Linked DNA regions of Homo sapiens: region 2 is linked to region 1. The links come from fine-mapping of genetic effects on gene expression. Tissue or cell type: whole blood. Region 1 holds a variant in brackets; the other region holds the start of a gene. All regions are shown on one strand. Distances are from middle to middle.

The links. PIP is the estimated chance that this variant, and not a neighbour inherited with it, causes the effect.
Region 2: it holds the start of NHSL2, and the variant in region 1 is fine-mapped to the expression of NHSL2 in whole blood (TOPMed, PIP 0.96).

Annotation. Positions count from the first base shown.
Region 1 is chrX:72,048,427-72,056,531 of GRCh38, reverse strand. All of the region lies in intron 1 of NHSL2 (NHS like 2), which reads right to left. Among named protein-coding and RNA genes, the nearest start is that of RTL5, 79 kb to the left of the region's middle. The variant G/T (reference allele first, on the strand shown) is at 4,706.
Region 2 is chrX:71,905,891-71,913,995 of GRCh38, reverse strand. NHSL2 (NHS like 2) reads right to left here and starts at 3,151. Exons shown (of 8, transcript NM_001013627.3): 1 at 2,629-3,151. The coding sequence starts at 2,908.

The sequences.
Region 1 (8,105 bases):
CAAATACATATATTATGAAGCAATAACAACTGCAATGAATAAAGGGTACAGGGTGCTGAGAGAGTATATTGGTGAGGCTTGATATAGTCTAGGAGGCCTGTTGGTAAATAGACACTTCCATCTTTGTTTTCAACAGCTGCATAATGCCCCACTATATGGATGCTCCATAGTTTACATAACCAGTCACCTACTGTAGGGAACACAGAATTTTCTCCCTTTCTCTTTACATCATAACCAATGTTTTGATGCACATCTTTGTACATGCATCTCTAGCACTCGTTTGATTATTCCCTTAGTATGCATTTCTAAGAGTAGAATTGCCACATCAAAGGATGTATACATTTTTAGGCCTTTTGAAACATATTGCCCAACTGTCCTGCAGAAAGGAGGTACTGATTTACATGGGAAAATGTCCGCTTTTAAAAAAAGGGTTAATGGTGGCCAAATCTAGGTGGTAATAATTCCGTAAAAAATTTTAAAGGCTGCATAGTATTCCATGGTTATTTACACGATTTTTTTCTATTTTGCCATTACAAAAAAAGCAATTTACTTATTTAACAACAACAATAACAAAAGTGGAAAGTTTTGATAAAAGAAACCACCTACCAAGGTTAGAATATGCTTTCATCTGTTCAAGTAATATGCTAGGTGATAGGACTAAAAAGGTGACATCTTTTTTAGAATCTCCAGTAAAGAAGTAGATTTTTAGTCTCAAGGTTCGGAACATTTGCGTTTCTGTTAAGCAGTTGATTTGCTTTTATCTATGAATCTTATAACTGATCATACCTCCCTTTTTGTTATCTGCCATGAAAGGTTAAAGTCAAATTTGGGACCCACATTTATCAAGAGGGGACTTCCTGAAATTCACTTTCTATCACGACTTCTTCACAAGTTACCCTTGTTTTCTCTCTGCCTCATCTTCCTCCCTTACATCTAATTTAGGTTCTCTCCAAGTATAGGATGTATCTTATAAGCCACCTTAAACCCTTTTTGGAATAAGTCAAGGTGGAAATAATTTTTTACAAAAATTAAGCTAAATGCTCAGATCTCCCTCCAACACAGTCCTCAAGAGGCATAGGCAAGACACAAACAGAAAGATGCCTCAAGAAAACAACAAAAACCTAATTGGAGGTCAATCGATTTCTGGGCTACATGCGTCAAAGCTGAGGTCTTCAGCTTCCAAACACGCAAAGTAATTTAGCGCTCGCGTTCCCATGGCAACCGTGCCAGTGATGGAGAAGATGCAGCAAGCCCGGCCTGGCGGTTGCTGGGGAACTCGGGCTGTTGGCTGCGTGACTTTGCTCAAGTCTGAGTGTTTAGATGCGCAGGGACTTTCCATTAACTGGGAGCTCTGGATTCGGACCTAACTGAAAATGTAGTTGCTGAGGAGAGGTGAAAAGTGTACACTGGAAATGGAGTGACATCTAGGTAGCCTCCAATACTTGAAGTTAGTTAGCACTTTCCTTTTTCTCTTTCTCTCCCCGCTTGCTAAAGAAGGGGGTTAGGAAGCGGGAGACGGGACAACAGGCAAAGGGATCCACCCCAAGCTGTCCTTTTACAAAGGGGCTGAAAGAGTGACGGGGGAAAGGGTGATCTCATTAGCATATTTAAAGCTCCAGCCTAATGACTGCTTTGTGCCTCAACTGAAGAAAAATTGTGCTAACTGCAGGGGGAGGGGCATCATGGAGGCTAGAAAAGGGGATCCCAAAAGAACTCAAATGGGGTGAGGTCGATGAATGTCATCCTCGCCACTTGGGGAGAATATAGATGAGTATTTATTTGGTCTGGGAGGAGGCAAGACTTTCTAAGCATTAAAATCACAAAGGAAAATGTCAACATATTTGGCAGCATCATTTAAAAAAATGTTAGCACATCCCAAAGCACAACAAACCAAAAATCAAAGAGAAAATAGCAAATTGGGAAAGAAAAAGATATTTGCAGCATAGGACAGAAAAGGGTTAATATCTTTACTATATAAAGAGCTTTAAGTAACAAACTCTTTACCAATAAGTAAACAGACACACATATTTTACTTTTCTAATCAAGAAAAAACCAACTCTATTTCAGAAGAGAGAGAAAGAGTCCAGAAGAGCATGTCATTCTCTGAAAGGGAAGCTATTAAGAACGACAGAATGCGGATCAGCTCAGACAACAGCTAAAGTGGCCCAGGGAAGAGTTTGAAAATGTTCTGCTTATTGCACTGGAGAGATGGGAGTGGAGATTGGGGGGTTTCCTAAAGCTTACTGCACCAATCAAAAAGCAATCATTTTGGAACAACCTGTCAAAATAGTACTGGAACCTGTCATTGACATATGCAAGCAGGAAGGCTCTACTTCCCACCCACACAGTGTAGACAGAGGAGTATGGCAGAGAAAGCGTTGCAGCATCTCCTTGGAAGAGAGGGCTATGGAGTATCCCTGGCACCTACAGCAGAGCTGGCCCAGAGTAAGCAGGTGTTCAGTGAGGCCTTGTTGAAGAGTTGTGAGGTTCTCTTCATGATGGCCAAGTCCTTAGGTGGAGTCCTTGGTTCCAAGCAGCCTTCAAGGAACTCACCCACTCTCTTTGAGACCCCACCAAGGAGCTCGCTGTGAGTGTCTATCCCAAGCTCAGGTTCTGGGAAGGAGAAGCAGACTTATTCTGTGTTGCTGTAGATGGTAGGAGTATTAATTTCTTCCACAAACATTGCTTGAGGCCAATTATGTGCTGGGAATGAGATGGGGGTGGAGGAGTGGACCCCAAAATGAGGAGCGTATTACAAACAGTTCCCAGTCTATTGGGAGAGACAACATGTAACTTATGAAAGAAGCAGCTTTTGAGATGGGCTTTGAAGGTTGGGTAGGAGGTCAGCACGCAGAGATGTAGTCAGACAGCATACAAAAATTGGAACTGAAGGCAAAGACATGTGCATGGCGAGATGATCCCTCGGGCCCTTTTCTGTTCTGCCAGTCTACGATTCTGAACTTCAGCCTCATTCTCAGCAATAATATCTCTGTGAAATCATGGATTTCACAGGTATGCTGGTTATACTTTTCTCTCATATATAGAAAAATAAATATGCAAGCATTCAAGTAAAAAGAAAAGTTCATCTGTACCTCTTGAAGGCATTTCAATTAGTGTGGTGGAGTTTACACAGTTCTAGGAAACTGTGCCAGAGGTCATAAGGAGTTATGGAGCGTCCTGTCCCCAGAATGGAGAAGATTGGAGGTGGAGAGAATGGAGACAGGCAAACTGGTCAGGCGACTGTCGCAAGAATCCAGTGAGAGGATGGGCCCCCTAACTTCTCAGAAGAAATGGCTGAGAAGCCTGGGGTGCGCGGGGTGAAGCAGCTGATTAGACCAGAGAGAAGGCTCCTAATTCCTGGTTTGCTGCACTCAAATCCTAACGAGGCAAGGCTCACATTCAATTCTGGTCATTATGTTCTTCTCAACATTGTTTTCCATTTCCCTTACCCAATTTAGGATGTATTGTTATGGCTGTTTAAATAAGGTGCCAATCCGACTGGGCAAGAGCAGGAAATGTTTCCACACAGGAAAGACTCTCATCAGATCCCTATTGCCTTTTGCAAATGGAAATCAAGCCTCCTTCTACAGAGGGCATGAGGGCTGAGTCACAGCTGCACCGTTAACATATTAGTAACACAGAAAATCCTCCTTTTCTGTTAGCAGCTTGGCCAGAGAATGTCTACAGAGGGGCTGGGGGGAGCAGAGGGTGAAGAAAGGGGTGGAGAGAGGGATGGCTCAGGAGAGGCCCCCACCTACCCTTTTCATTTGCAACCTGGAGGGGGTCTTCCCTTCCCAAACACAGGAAGATGACTCATTTAAAAACCACCAGGGTGGTCAGCCTAAGTTGGATAGACCAGGCGAGAGTGTCGTGTGCTCCTGGAGGAATGAGAGGGACATGGGGGAAGCTGGACTGGAAGAGGAAGGAATGGGGAGGACTGCAATGTAGCCAGGTCCTTACTCCATCTCCTCCCTCATCCCCAAGCCCATCTCTTTCAGTTGAGACCCTTTGCCTTGTTCCAGAAATCATGTGGCCTCCCAGGCAACTCCCAGGGCGGTTGGCCTGAAGGTCACAGGCTCCTGGCCTCTTGGCACCTCTGTGACTTATCTGAAATATGGTTCTCCTCCTTCAACTGTCCAAGACTTTTAATGCCCGACCTGCCATGCAAGCAAGCTCGCCCTGAGGCCCCTAGTTGGTGCCAGGCACTGGGGACAGAAACTAGGAATTGAGCATCCAGTCAGACAGGTGTGCCTCGGAGGACTGAGGAGGGCAACTTTCTCAGAGGATGATAACCACGCATGTCACCCTTCACCCCATCACATTGGAAGTGCCACAAAGCCAGGAGCCTCATCTGGCTCAGCCACCACTCAGCACCTAGTGCAGAGTAGGTATGTAATACACATTTGTTTAGTTTGTTGAAGGAATTCTAAGCAACAAAGGAAAACGAGATCCATTTTGGTTACACTTACTTTCCAAGCAAAAGAGTCAAGAGGCTTTATGTCTGATTTGTATAAGCTGCTGGGATAAATACTATAATAGAGAAATAAATGCTATATAAAGTACAGTGGGAGCTGAGAGGGGGACTCTGCCTGGAGTTATCTGGAGAGGCTTCCAAGAAAGCTGTCATTGAGGCAAGTTGTGAGAAATGAATGAGGTTTTCCTAGGTGGAAGTGAACACTGAGACTAGGTGTAGAGAATGGTGGCA[G/T]GACCAGAGGTGTGCAGGCAACAGGTGGGGACATGTTGGAGAGAGACCCGCAAGTGGAAGAATCTGGAGGAACCAAAGACTTCCTGAGTGTGTGCTGAGGGCAGGCAGCAGGAGATGATGTTGGAAAGGTTGCCTGGATCCATCTGTGGAGGGCCTTAAATTCCAGCCAGAGGAGTAGATCGGGAACATGTTGTGGAGAAGGAAACCTTAAATAGGGTTGATCTGGCAGTGAGGTAGGAGAAGCAAGAGGAAGGAGGGCTGGATAGGAGATGATCACCTGGTATGACAGTGTCTAGGAAACTCGGTCACTGTGAGAACAGAGTGGGAGGGCCTAGGGTGAAATGTTGATGGGGCTGTAGAGAAACAGATTCTCTCAGATATTTCTGGCAGAACTGTGCATCGGTATAGCCATCTGAAAGAGCGATTTTGCAATATCTACAGATACCCCTCAACTCAGCAATTTGACTTCTTTCTAGGTACATACAACTGAAAATTTCTGTACATGCATGGGGAAATATCTACAAGAATGTTCATTGTAACATAGTTGGTAATGGTAAAAAATAGAAATAATCTAAGTGTCTATCAGTAGTGGATTAAGAAATCAATTTTATTATTCATCTGATGGAATACTATATAGCAGTTAACATGAACAAACTACATCTATGGGTGTAAAAGGGACAGATACCAAAAAACATAACACTGAGTGAAGAAAGCACATTTTAGAGTTACTTCATGTAGTATAATAGCACTTATGACAAATTTTAAAAGTGCAAAACCAAATAGTACATACCATTTATGGATGCATAAACATAGCCTGGATTTGCATCACAGCCCAGACAATAAAAAATAGGACTGAGGAGGAGAATGCAGGGACGTCGGTGGCATCTGTAACGTGGTTTTGGTTTGGTTTGGTTTTTGTTTTGTTTTTTTTTTTTTGATAGATGGAGTCTTGCTCTGTCACCCAGGCTGGAGTACAGTGACGCAACCTCAGCTCACTGCAATCTCTGCCTCCCGGGTTCAAGCAATTCTCCTGCCTCAGCCTCCTGAGTAGCTGGGATTACAGGCGTGTGACACCACACCTAACTTTTGTATTTTAGTAGAGACAGGGTTTCGCTATATTGGCCAGGCTGGTTTCAAACTCCTCACCTCAAGTGATCCACTCACCTCAGGCTCCCAAAGTGCTGGGATTATAGGCATGAGCCACCAGGCCTGGACTGTAATGTTTTCTTTTGCTAGAAAAAGTTGCTGGCAAACATGACGCAAATGTTAACATTTGTTCATTTTGGGTGGTTCATATGCATGTTTATCATAGGCATTTGCTACATTATCTTCTGACATTTTTCCTTAGTGTTTTTTAAGCAAAAAAGAAAAAAGGAAAAAAGGGGAGGAATGAAAGAGACAGAGCCGGCCACTACCTCATCTAGCAAATAGAAGCCTACAGACACTTACTGAAGGACAACACAGCCACAATCAAGAAAAATAACAGGAAAAATGACCCCACAGCTCCTAATAAATGCTATGTTTCAGAGCCTGGGCTCATTGCCACCCTTGCCCCTACCCGCCTTTGCTGGCTGTCAGTCAAAAAAACAATAAATAGTACACGAAAGTGGATCCAAGGTGGAGAACAATGATTTGGAACTCTTGCCAGACCCGGATGCAAAGGCACTTGGAGAGCAAAATTTACACATATGTTCCCCATGTGAGAAACAGTTCATCCCTGCAGGGTGTCTAAGTACCACGAGGCCTTCTGGAGGGAGAGAGAGGAGGAGGGTTTTCAGGGCATCAGACCAAGAGAGAAGAATGGTGAAATCGAAGGGAACATAACCTACCAAAACCAGAACTATAACTACAACTAGAAGCTAGTTATAGCTAGAGGATTTATTTATGCTTGTTTTGTGAATTGTTGTGTCACCAAAGCCTTGAACAGTGTTTGATACATACTAGATGCTCAGTAAACATGTGTAAGTGAAAGGGAACAGTGAGTGACACGAGGTGGATGGGAGGAGCCTTGAGCGTTCCCAGCTCTTCCTCATCTTGATTGCTTAAGTGACCAGATTTCAGGTGTGCCAAAGCAGGCACTCACAATGTTTTCTAGATAATTTCTATCATTGCCTGAGGTAAGAACCGGGGGCCTGGATTGAGACACTGGCAGTAAAAGGGTGATGGAGTTATAGAGGAGTGAGGCTCCAGGAAGAATAAAGAGTCAGGAGGCTTAGGCAAGACATGCCCCTAAAACATGAAAATCTCATGAGTAGGAACAGGTATGAGGGGGTTTGGGGAAGCAAAATGGACACCAGAGAGAATAAAGAAGGGAATTGGGGGGAGTCTCACCCACTCCGGGCACTGGGAATTCATAAGGTGCCTCCTCCTGCTAGATGTACAGCTTGGAGAGCTGCAATGCCTTTGAGAGAATTAGGAAAAAGTGGCCCCAGGATAAAGGTCTTGACTATTGGATTGTCCCCACTCACTTGGGTGAGCTTGCGCAGGGCACAACCTGCAGAACCACACACCGAGGCCCTGGCCCCCAGATCCGCATTCTGGGCCACCAGGTTCTTTCTAGTCTCTCATCATTCTGCAGCCCCTCGCCACCTGCTGGGAGCACTCTGTTATCACTCTGGCTGCCATCCCTGCTTCATAGCCCCTGCCAGTCCACTTTGCCCTGGATCACAGCAGGGCCTTCCCTGGCAAGAAGCCAACAGACAGCAACAAGTTCTCAGGTGAATTTTGAATCCTCCTCCTCCTCCTCCCCTCCTCCTCCTCCTCCTGCTCCTCTTCTTCTTCTTCTTCCTCTTCCTCTTCCTCTTCCTCTTCCTCTTCTTCTTCTTCTTCTTCTTCTTCTCCTCCTTCTTCTCCTCCTTCTTCCTCATTTTTACAGACAGGGGCAAGCATAACTCACTATAACTTTGAACTCCTGGCCTCTAGAAATCCTCCTGTCTCAGCCTCCTGAGTAGCTGACATTACAAGCATGAGCCACTGTGCCTGGCCTTGAATATTATTCTGTGTGCAAAGACTCTGTGTTCTAATCAGGAACATTTCGACTGCTTCAGACAGGGAGGCACACGCTTTTCTACCTTCCTGAAACAGGTCGAGTAAAGTCCAAGAAGCCTGAAGCCAGAAACAAGCTGCTGCCCCGCCCTGGTGTTGCCTACAGGAAATATTGACAACATTTCTCCTGTCACCATGGAGGAGAAATGCCCTCTAACCCCAACTCCAGCATCCCAGAGAGAGTTTTTGAGTCTGCTGGGCTGGGACACATGCAAACAGTGGGGATAGAGCATCAGCACTCTCCTCAGGACCCCAGTGGCATTATGTCACCTTTTCTCAAGCAGGAGAATGCAGCCTCTTGAATTCCGAGAAAGTGGTGGCCATTGGACAGGAGCTCTGTCACTTTTCCCCAAAC
Region 2 (8,105 bases), 140 kb after region 1:
GTGGGTGGGATGTTGCGAGGCAACTAGCCTAGCCCAGTCCACCCCTGTAACCTTGAAGATGGTGGGGGCATGACCCATGATTGTGATTGTGTAGAGAAGCACCTTCAACTTCTTCAGCATCCACTTTCTCCTCCTCTATCTCGCTCCTCCTCTCTCTGTCCTCCCCTGCTGCTTCTCAGGGCCCCAGCCCAGCCTGCAGGCTATAGGCCAGTCTGACTTGCCACTACTCAGTCAGTGGCAGCCAAGTTGTCACTGCAGGGAGGCTATATACTGCTGGCCTGTCAGCTGTCATTCACTCTGGCCATGTTGCTTTCCAACCTTCCTCCCACCTTCCCAGGTTTCTCCTGCCCCATGGTCAAAATAAATAGCTAGAGGAAGAATCTGAGGGCAATCCAGACAGATGGAGGATATGCAGGGTAAAATGCTGACCCCCAGCAAAATGGTCAGTAAGGGAGTGGGAATCCTAGGAGGAAAACGCATAGGGAAGAAAAAAGGGCAAGACATGACAATGTTCATTTATTTACTTACTTACGGTCAAAATCTAATATTCGGCTTGCTAAACACCCTGTTGAAGCTTATGCCTGAGCGACAAGGGAGTGGCCAGATGGTGCACTGATTACGCTCCCCAACTCTCTTTGCATTTGGCACTTATGTTCAGACCATTGCTGAGAAGGCCTAATTTCAGTGCTACCCAATTACAGCTCCTGAAGAGAAAAGTGTGCACTGAGAACTTCAAGGGGAGTCTAGGGTAGGGCATTAGACCAGAAAATGGAAAATCAGACCTTTTCACCAACTTACAGAAGGTAGCTGTGTTCCATTTATGCAGCAGTCCCTTGGGTGCCTCTGAGCCGTGGGACATGTACATTCTCAAAAGCAAGAGGCCACACCAGGGATGAGAGATGGCCACTCTTCCTGCTCTTGAAAACTGCCAAGAAGCCAAACCAGTGGTAATTTAACTTAACAATTGTTCCTCTCCATTGCAAGCTATCCATTGCATAAAGCCATCTCCTTCTAACCTGGCAGATCACCGGAGAGGGTTAGGTCCCAAAGGTGACTTGGTGAAGCCCTGCCTTCCCTCCCACAGAAAGGGCTTGCTAATTCAGTGGACAGGAAGGTAGAGTTGAAAAAACTGTCCTTAACTTACCCTACTGAACTCAGTAGGTGGCTCTCTGCAAACTGTGTAGGGATTTTGAAAACTACTCCTCAAGCTGACTTATCAAATTTCTCCTAGACTAATCCTGTAATCAGTGGGACCCCAGCAAAAAACTGAGCCCCTGCCATGCAGAGGCTCCTGGTCCAACGTCTACATTCCATCTGGCAGTCATCTGTGGCTTCCACCTTTCTTTTCCAATAGGACTCAGTTCATTTATCTCCACCAGAGACCTCTGCCATCTACCTCAGAGGTCAGAGACCTTTATGAAGAGAGGTGCCAGGGCCTGACTCCAGTCCTTCTGGAAGGGGTGGGGATGGGGTGGGGTCTGCAATGAAGAGGGGCTGGCCCAGGCAATTCTTTCCCAAGTTAGCTGGAAGCTTGCACTCAGAAATCAGCCAGCAGTCATCTTCTGCCCCCATTGGAAACTTTCTGGCCACACTGCTCCTTCTCTCCCCAGCTTTCTGGAGGAACCGATTGGCCCTGGTACCTGGCATGCCCCAGCTGTAGTCAGCATTTCCAGCCTACTCAGTCCCCTTGCTTTCAGCAGAAGTCCCACACTCTCAGGGGCACTGCATTTCCACAGACAGAGGATTCCCCGTGTAAAGTGCTGGGATCCAAAACAGTAAAGGACAAGGGCTCGCGTAGCCCCCCTACCCTCTCACACGTCCCGCGTGCTCAGTGAGGGCACCACTGGAACCTGGTTTCTCAGGCATGGCTGATTCCTAAAGTGAATGCGCTTCAGGAAACTGATGATAGTTTCTTTAAATGATTCTCTCCAGCAAATAACAGCCAGACCCTAGCGGTAGTGGGTAGGGGGTCAGCAAAGCCCCGGACATTCTCCCCTCCCCCCTCCCGGCCACTCCCCAGCACAGCGGCCCAAAACGTGCGGAGAGAAGCAAGCGGGAGGACGCTCAGACACTCCTGTGAGTGGGAGCCGCGTCCACGCTCCAGCGGGAAGTTGCACAGGTTTAAAGCCTGTAGGCACCACCGCCGGCTCCTGCCGCCGCGTAGGTTGCGGTCGGCTGCGGCGCGCTTTCTGAAGTGGCCGAGCTCCTAGACAGGAGCAAAGAAGCCAGCGGCTCGGCCATTTAGCTCCCGACGCGGCGATGAGGACGGCGCCGAGGGCCTGGGGCTAGGTGGGCGGGTAGGGGGAGTATCGCCCAAGCCGTCCTGGACCCAGCGCGTCCCCAGCCAAAACCCCAGGAGGCGGCCACCAACCCCAGGGTCGGGAGTCCCAAGGGCACGGGGCCACTCCGGACGGCGCGACCGGGTCCAAGAGCAGGAAGTTCCAGCGGTAGGGCGACCGTGGGGCGGAGGCGGGGGTCGGGGAAATGGGATCCCCTCACTCCCCGAATGGAGGGGAGGGGAGGGGCGGAGAGAGGCGGGGAGAGGGTGGGCACAGCGCTAAGCGCCGACCGGCGCCCCTAGAGGCGGGGTAGACGCGGGGCCGCGAGCCACCGGGGCGCCGTTTTTACCTAGCTCTTCCTCGTCCTCCTCCGGGCCAAGCAGGCGGCAGGGAAGGCGGCGGCGGAGGCGCACGGTGCGCCGGTACAGGCTGTCTGTGCGGCGCCCCAGGGCCAGCAGGTGCCCCTCGAGGTCCTCGAGCAGAGCCAACGAGTGGCCACAGAGGTCGGCGAGCTGCCGGAGCAGGCTGAGCGCTGCCAGGTGGCTCACGTCGCGGAGCTCCGCCAGCTGCTGCGGCGGGTTGCGCGGGCACAGGCGCTGGGGTACCACCGTGCGCCTGTAGAACGGCATCCCGGCCGCGGGCGCGGGCGCAGGGGACCAGTCTGGCGGCGCGGCGGGCTCACCCCGAGCAGCGCCCCTGGCCCGAGCGCCCCTGAGCGGCGGCCCCAGCTCCGGGTGTAGCAGGCCCCTGGGCGCGGGCCGGAGAGCGTGCGGGCGCCAAAGACGACGGGCGGGTAGGCGGGCTGACGGGTTCCTCGCCTAGAGCGCCGGCTCCCCCGGGGCTGCACACTCGCCGGAGCCACCAGTCCCTCTGACTCTGCTTCGCCGGGCTCCTCCTCCTCCTCCCCCCTCCTCCTCCTCTCTTTTCTCCTCCTCCTCCTCCTAGCTCTGCTACTTCGGGATCCCCCCACCCACCTTTTTTTTTTTTCTTCTTTTGCGGTCAGAGATTCGCAGATTAACGCTTGATCCGGGAGAGGGAGAAAGGGAAGTAGGAGTAAAAAGAGCGAGCTGGAGCGTGAAAGAAGGAATGTCTGCGTGAGGGGGGACGTAAGGTACGGTGTAGAATGTGTGCCCCGGTCCTCCTGAGGAGCTCCACTCCCAGTTCTGATGGTTAAAGTTATTTTTTGCTTTTTTTTTTAACTTAAACTTTTTCTTCATAATTACAAAAAAAAAAAAAAAAATTCAAGCACACCCGCGCCCACACCAGCGGGTAATCAGCGAAGACCGACCGAATAGTTTGACTTTATTGATCTAGATTTCCTTTCCCAAACGTACTCGGTGCCACGCACGGGCTAGACTAGGCTGTGAATACAACCTTCTAGCACCCAGGAGCTTGGAAATAAGGACCAAAAAACCAAATATCTTATTCGACTGTTCAAGAAGACAATGTCTCTAGGGAGTCCCACAGTGGCTGGACATTGTAAAGCCATTGGAGTGGATGAATAGAAACAAACCCATTTTCTGGAACAATAGACTTAATTCAGATAGAGGGACGCCACTCCATAGTTTATGCAAAAAGAGAGCCCAGGGACGCCTCCTTCTGGTAGGGTCCGCCAGCTGGGATAGGCTCTATCCCTGGCCAGGCTGGGCTGCTGGGATGCTCTCCGAAGAGGGTTACAGGAGCCGAGATGTGCTTTCAGTGCGGGCAACCCTGTGGTCACGGCCTGATTTCTCTCCATTCCAGAAGGCAGAAAAGAGGGGGCACATTATTGTCCTCAGAAAACCAGAGTACGTGAGCATATGTCCTCATGCACTTAGGACCTTTCCACTCAGAACGCTTATTTTCAACACACTGAGCTCCCATCTGACTCTCCTCTAACCCACTTCTTTGACTTTGGTGTACTTCGGTTTCTTCCTTCTCTTCATTCTCTTCTCATTTTTCCTCTTACAAATGTTCACATCCTTATAATCCTTTATAATCCATTAGCAAAACACTTTTTTTTTTAAGAGACAAGATCTACCACTGTCACCCTGGCTGGAGTGCAGTGGTGTGGTCACAGCTCACTGCAGCCTTGAATTCACTCTGGGCTCAGGGGATCCTCCGGTCTCAGCCTCCTGAGTAGCTAGGGCTATAGGCACGTGCCACCACTCCTGCTAATTTAGTTTTTATTTTTTGAAGAGACGGAATCTCCCTATGTTGCCCAGGCTGGCCTTAAACTCCTTGGCCCCAAGCAATCCTCCTGCCTCAGCCTCCCAAAGCACTGGGATTACAGGCATGAGCCACCACACTGGCCAGTAAAATACTTTGAACAGAATACCTGCATCTACATTAATGATTCTAAGCGTGGCCTGTTTTCATGCATTCCTTCAGATAATTAATTGTCCCTGAAGCAGTTCAAGAAGGTTCTACAACTAGTATATTTCAAAATTGCTAATAGATTCTAAATGTTCACACCACAGAAAAATGGTAAATATGTGAGGTAATGGATATGTTAACTAGTTTGATTTAATCATTCCACAATGTATTAATATATATACATCAAACCACATCGTGCCCCATAAATACATATAATTGTTTGTCAATTAAAAATAAAGTAAAAGCGTAATCCGATTTCCCTTTTCAGCATATAGTTGTTTCTTGTTTAGTAAATTAGAACATGGATATTAGAAAAGTTGGGTTCTGATTAAAATAAGAATCAACAAATGGGCAAAAGACTTGTACCCTTTCTGAAATGTAAAATCCAGTTGCAGAATAAAAACCCCAAATTCTCGATTTGGCAAACTCAAACCTGAGCCAAGAGAGCAACTGGGAGGAAGCAGGGACTTGGCTGGACTCTCCAGGGATACTTTTCCTTGACCTATGAGCTGTTTAGACTGATCTCTGCTCTGGAGAAGAAGAAATGAGGTACGAGCAGATTGAAGGAGACTGTGTGGTCAGAGCTTCACTGCCTGAGCACAGCAGGCCTGGACTGGGCCTGGTCGCTGAGCCTCCCTCACTACTCTGATTCCTGATGCTGATGAATCTTTCAGAGATCTATAATAACAAGCCCAATTCCAAGCAAACCAGCTTTGGCCCTACCCCCTTTCCCCCAGCCTAGTCTGCTCTCACTCCAGCCTCATCAATGAGATGGCCCTGGCTTTCGTCAAGGAAACATCAAGTATTTGCAATGGAGTCACTTCACAGCAGAGTCCCTCCTCCCTTGCCAGGACTAGAGTGGGTCTGCATGTATGATGGAAGAAGCCAAGGGAATATAAGTTGTCACCTTGCTTCTTATCCAGTCTCTTCCCAACAGGAAAGGTGAGACCTCGAATAAGGGGCTGCCTTGGGTTCAAGAGGTGAGCAGAGATGCAGAAAGCCTCAGAGGAAGGAGCGTAGGGAGCCAGGCTCTGGTATGTGGAGGGAAAGTTAGAGTTCTTGAAATACCGTGCTCCAGCCAAGCTGGCTGGGCAGGAAAGCAGCTAGGGTAAAGTGTCCTCTCCTGTGCTCCCACATCACCCTCTAGCACAGTATCTGGCACAGTGTACTGGAGGGTGATATGAACATCCTTGTTTAATAGTAATACTAATATTCCTTTGTAATAATATTGTCTCCCCCACATGATTGTTAGCTGCATGGCAGCAGGAATCACTTCTGTCTTGTTCACTGCTGTATGCCCAGTGCCAAGCCCAGTGACGGGTACACCACAGGTACTCTGAAAATGCCTGCTGAATGAATGAATGAATAAATGGAGGATTATAGGCAGAGCAAGATATGAAGAGCCTTACTAAAGGATTCAACTCAGCCGAAGGGGCTATAGAGAGTCGTTGTGGATTCTGGAGTAGAACATTGCCTGACACAAGGAAGGAAGTGCTTAAGAACTTTTCATGTGGAGGCCAAGGCTGCTACGCCCCACCTGCGCTCACATCTCCAGAGCCAAGTAGCCAGAAAGTGCTCTGTGAATTCAACATTTGCTTTGATTTGCCTATAAACCTTGGCATTTCACATTCAGAAGGAGAGAGAGAAAATGAAGGTGCAAAGAAGAGAAGGGGAGGCCCTTCACAGCCAAGCCAGACCTGAAAGTGCTGGATGCTTCCCACGCACCCACCAACTCCCATGCTCCAGGCCTGCAGCAGTTCATCCTGACACCAGATTTTGGAGTTGCACTCTGAGCCTAAGCCTAAGCCCCTGTGGAATCAGGTATGGATCCGACCTAGAAACAGAGACAGAAGGAGTAGCCAGAGAGGCAGGAGGAAATGGGAGCATTGACCACTCAAGACCAGTAAGGCCTCTGCTTTCCTTCCCATCTCCCAATCTGCCTTCCTAGCTGCTGCTAAGAACCTAGAATTTCAATAAAAATGAACTTGAAAGAATAAATAAGTGACACAGGATATGCCATTTCTCCTTCCTTGAGCTGGCAGTTTCCACAGCTGCAAAATGAAAATTTATGAGCAAACCTCATGTAACCTACCCAGCTTCCCAGTACAGCCCTCAGTCTTATTTCAGGATGAGAAACAAGAAAACTGCCTCCATGTTGCTACCTCTCAAATATGCCAGATAGTAGCAACTTGGTGGCTAAGAAGAGATGTTGGCTTTCTCTTTGATATTCCTCTACAGTCAATTGTTTTATCTAAGTTTTTTTTTTTTTTTTCTGGTTTTAGGGACAACGTCTTGCTATGTTGCCTGGACTGAACTCGAACTACCCAGCTCAAGCAATCCTCCCAAGTAGCTGGAACTACAGGGTCGCACTGTGTTTTATCTAAGTTTTAAGAATATATATTTCACCCCACACCCTCTTGCCATGAGACTCAATAAAAATATATATACAGGCAGTGGGGGTATGAAAAGGCTGCTCATTAATCCTAACTCTAACATTCTGTTCTCTGGTTCTAAGTGTCTGTACCAAGAGAAATTAACAAGAATTGGCAAATACTAGATTGAATCGACTCTCTTTTTAAATGTCATTTACCCTTTTTGGTATAAATGCATGGCTCTGCAGTTAAGAATACAATTAAACTCTCTCTCCTCAGATAGGCAGCCCAGTAGCCCAAAGAAATCGAACTGCCAGCTTTTCAGTCAGATAGAGCCTATAATTCAATTAACAATGCAGACAGTATCAAGGCTAATCAATGCTACACTCTGAAAAGAGAGGGATTTGTGGATTGAGTTTATCTTTATAATGATTATTAACAATTTATCAAAACATATAGAATTAGATAAATTATTAATGAAGCATGCAAAGTTAAAAAAAAAGAGTGGGTACATTGAGTGGATCAGTGCTACAAGATTTGAGAGGAAAGAGCATGCTTCTGCCCTAGAGGCAACAGAGGCTTCGCTGAGTGGGAGGGATGTAACCCCAGAGCTGGGCCTCCAAGGGTGGACTGGAAACTTACATGGCCATCAATCATCTCCTAGGGCAGTAAGCGTGTGAGCCAAAGACGGCTCAGGGTCCTAAAATAAATTCCTTTCAGTCCAGTCTCAATGCTTCACACACATGGGGCAAACCCTTCAAGAATTCCGTGAGGAAATAAACCTTTATTTCAAAAATAAACTTTGACGTTGTTTGAACTTTGACCCTGACTCTGAGCACAGGCTGAGACTTCGAAAAAAGACTTGTGGCGTTATGAAGGAAACTATGGGAGATTTCAGCAGAATGTGAACAAATTCTTTTTCAGTCCCTCATCTTCATGTCCTATGTAGATCCTCCTTCACCACCAATCCCTCACCCGCCACCCAACCGTCATGTTTTACCCGCTCTGTCTTGTTAGGATGAGACTATAATTAGGAACATTCGAATGTTGTTGCATTTAATAGGTAATTTTATCTTAACATGCTTACTTTACACAAGAA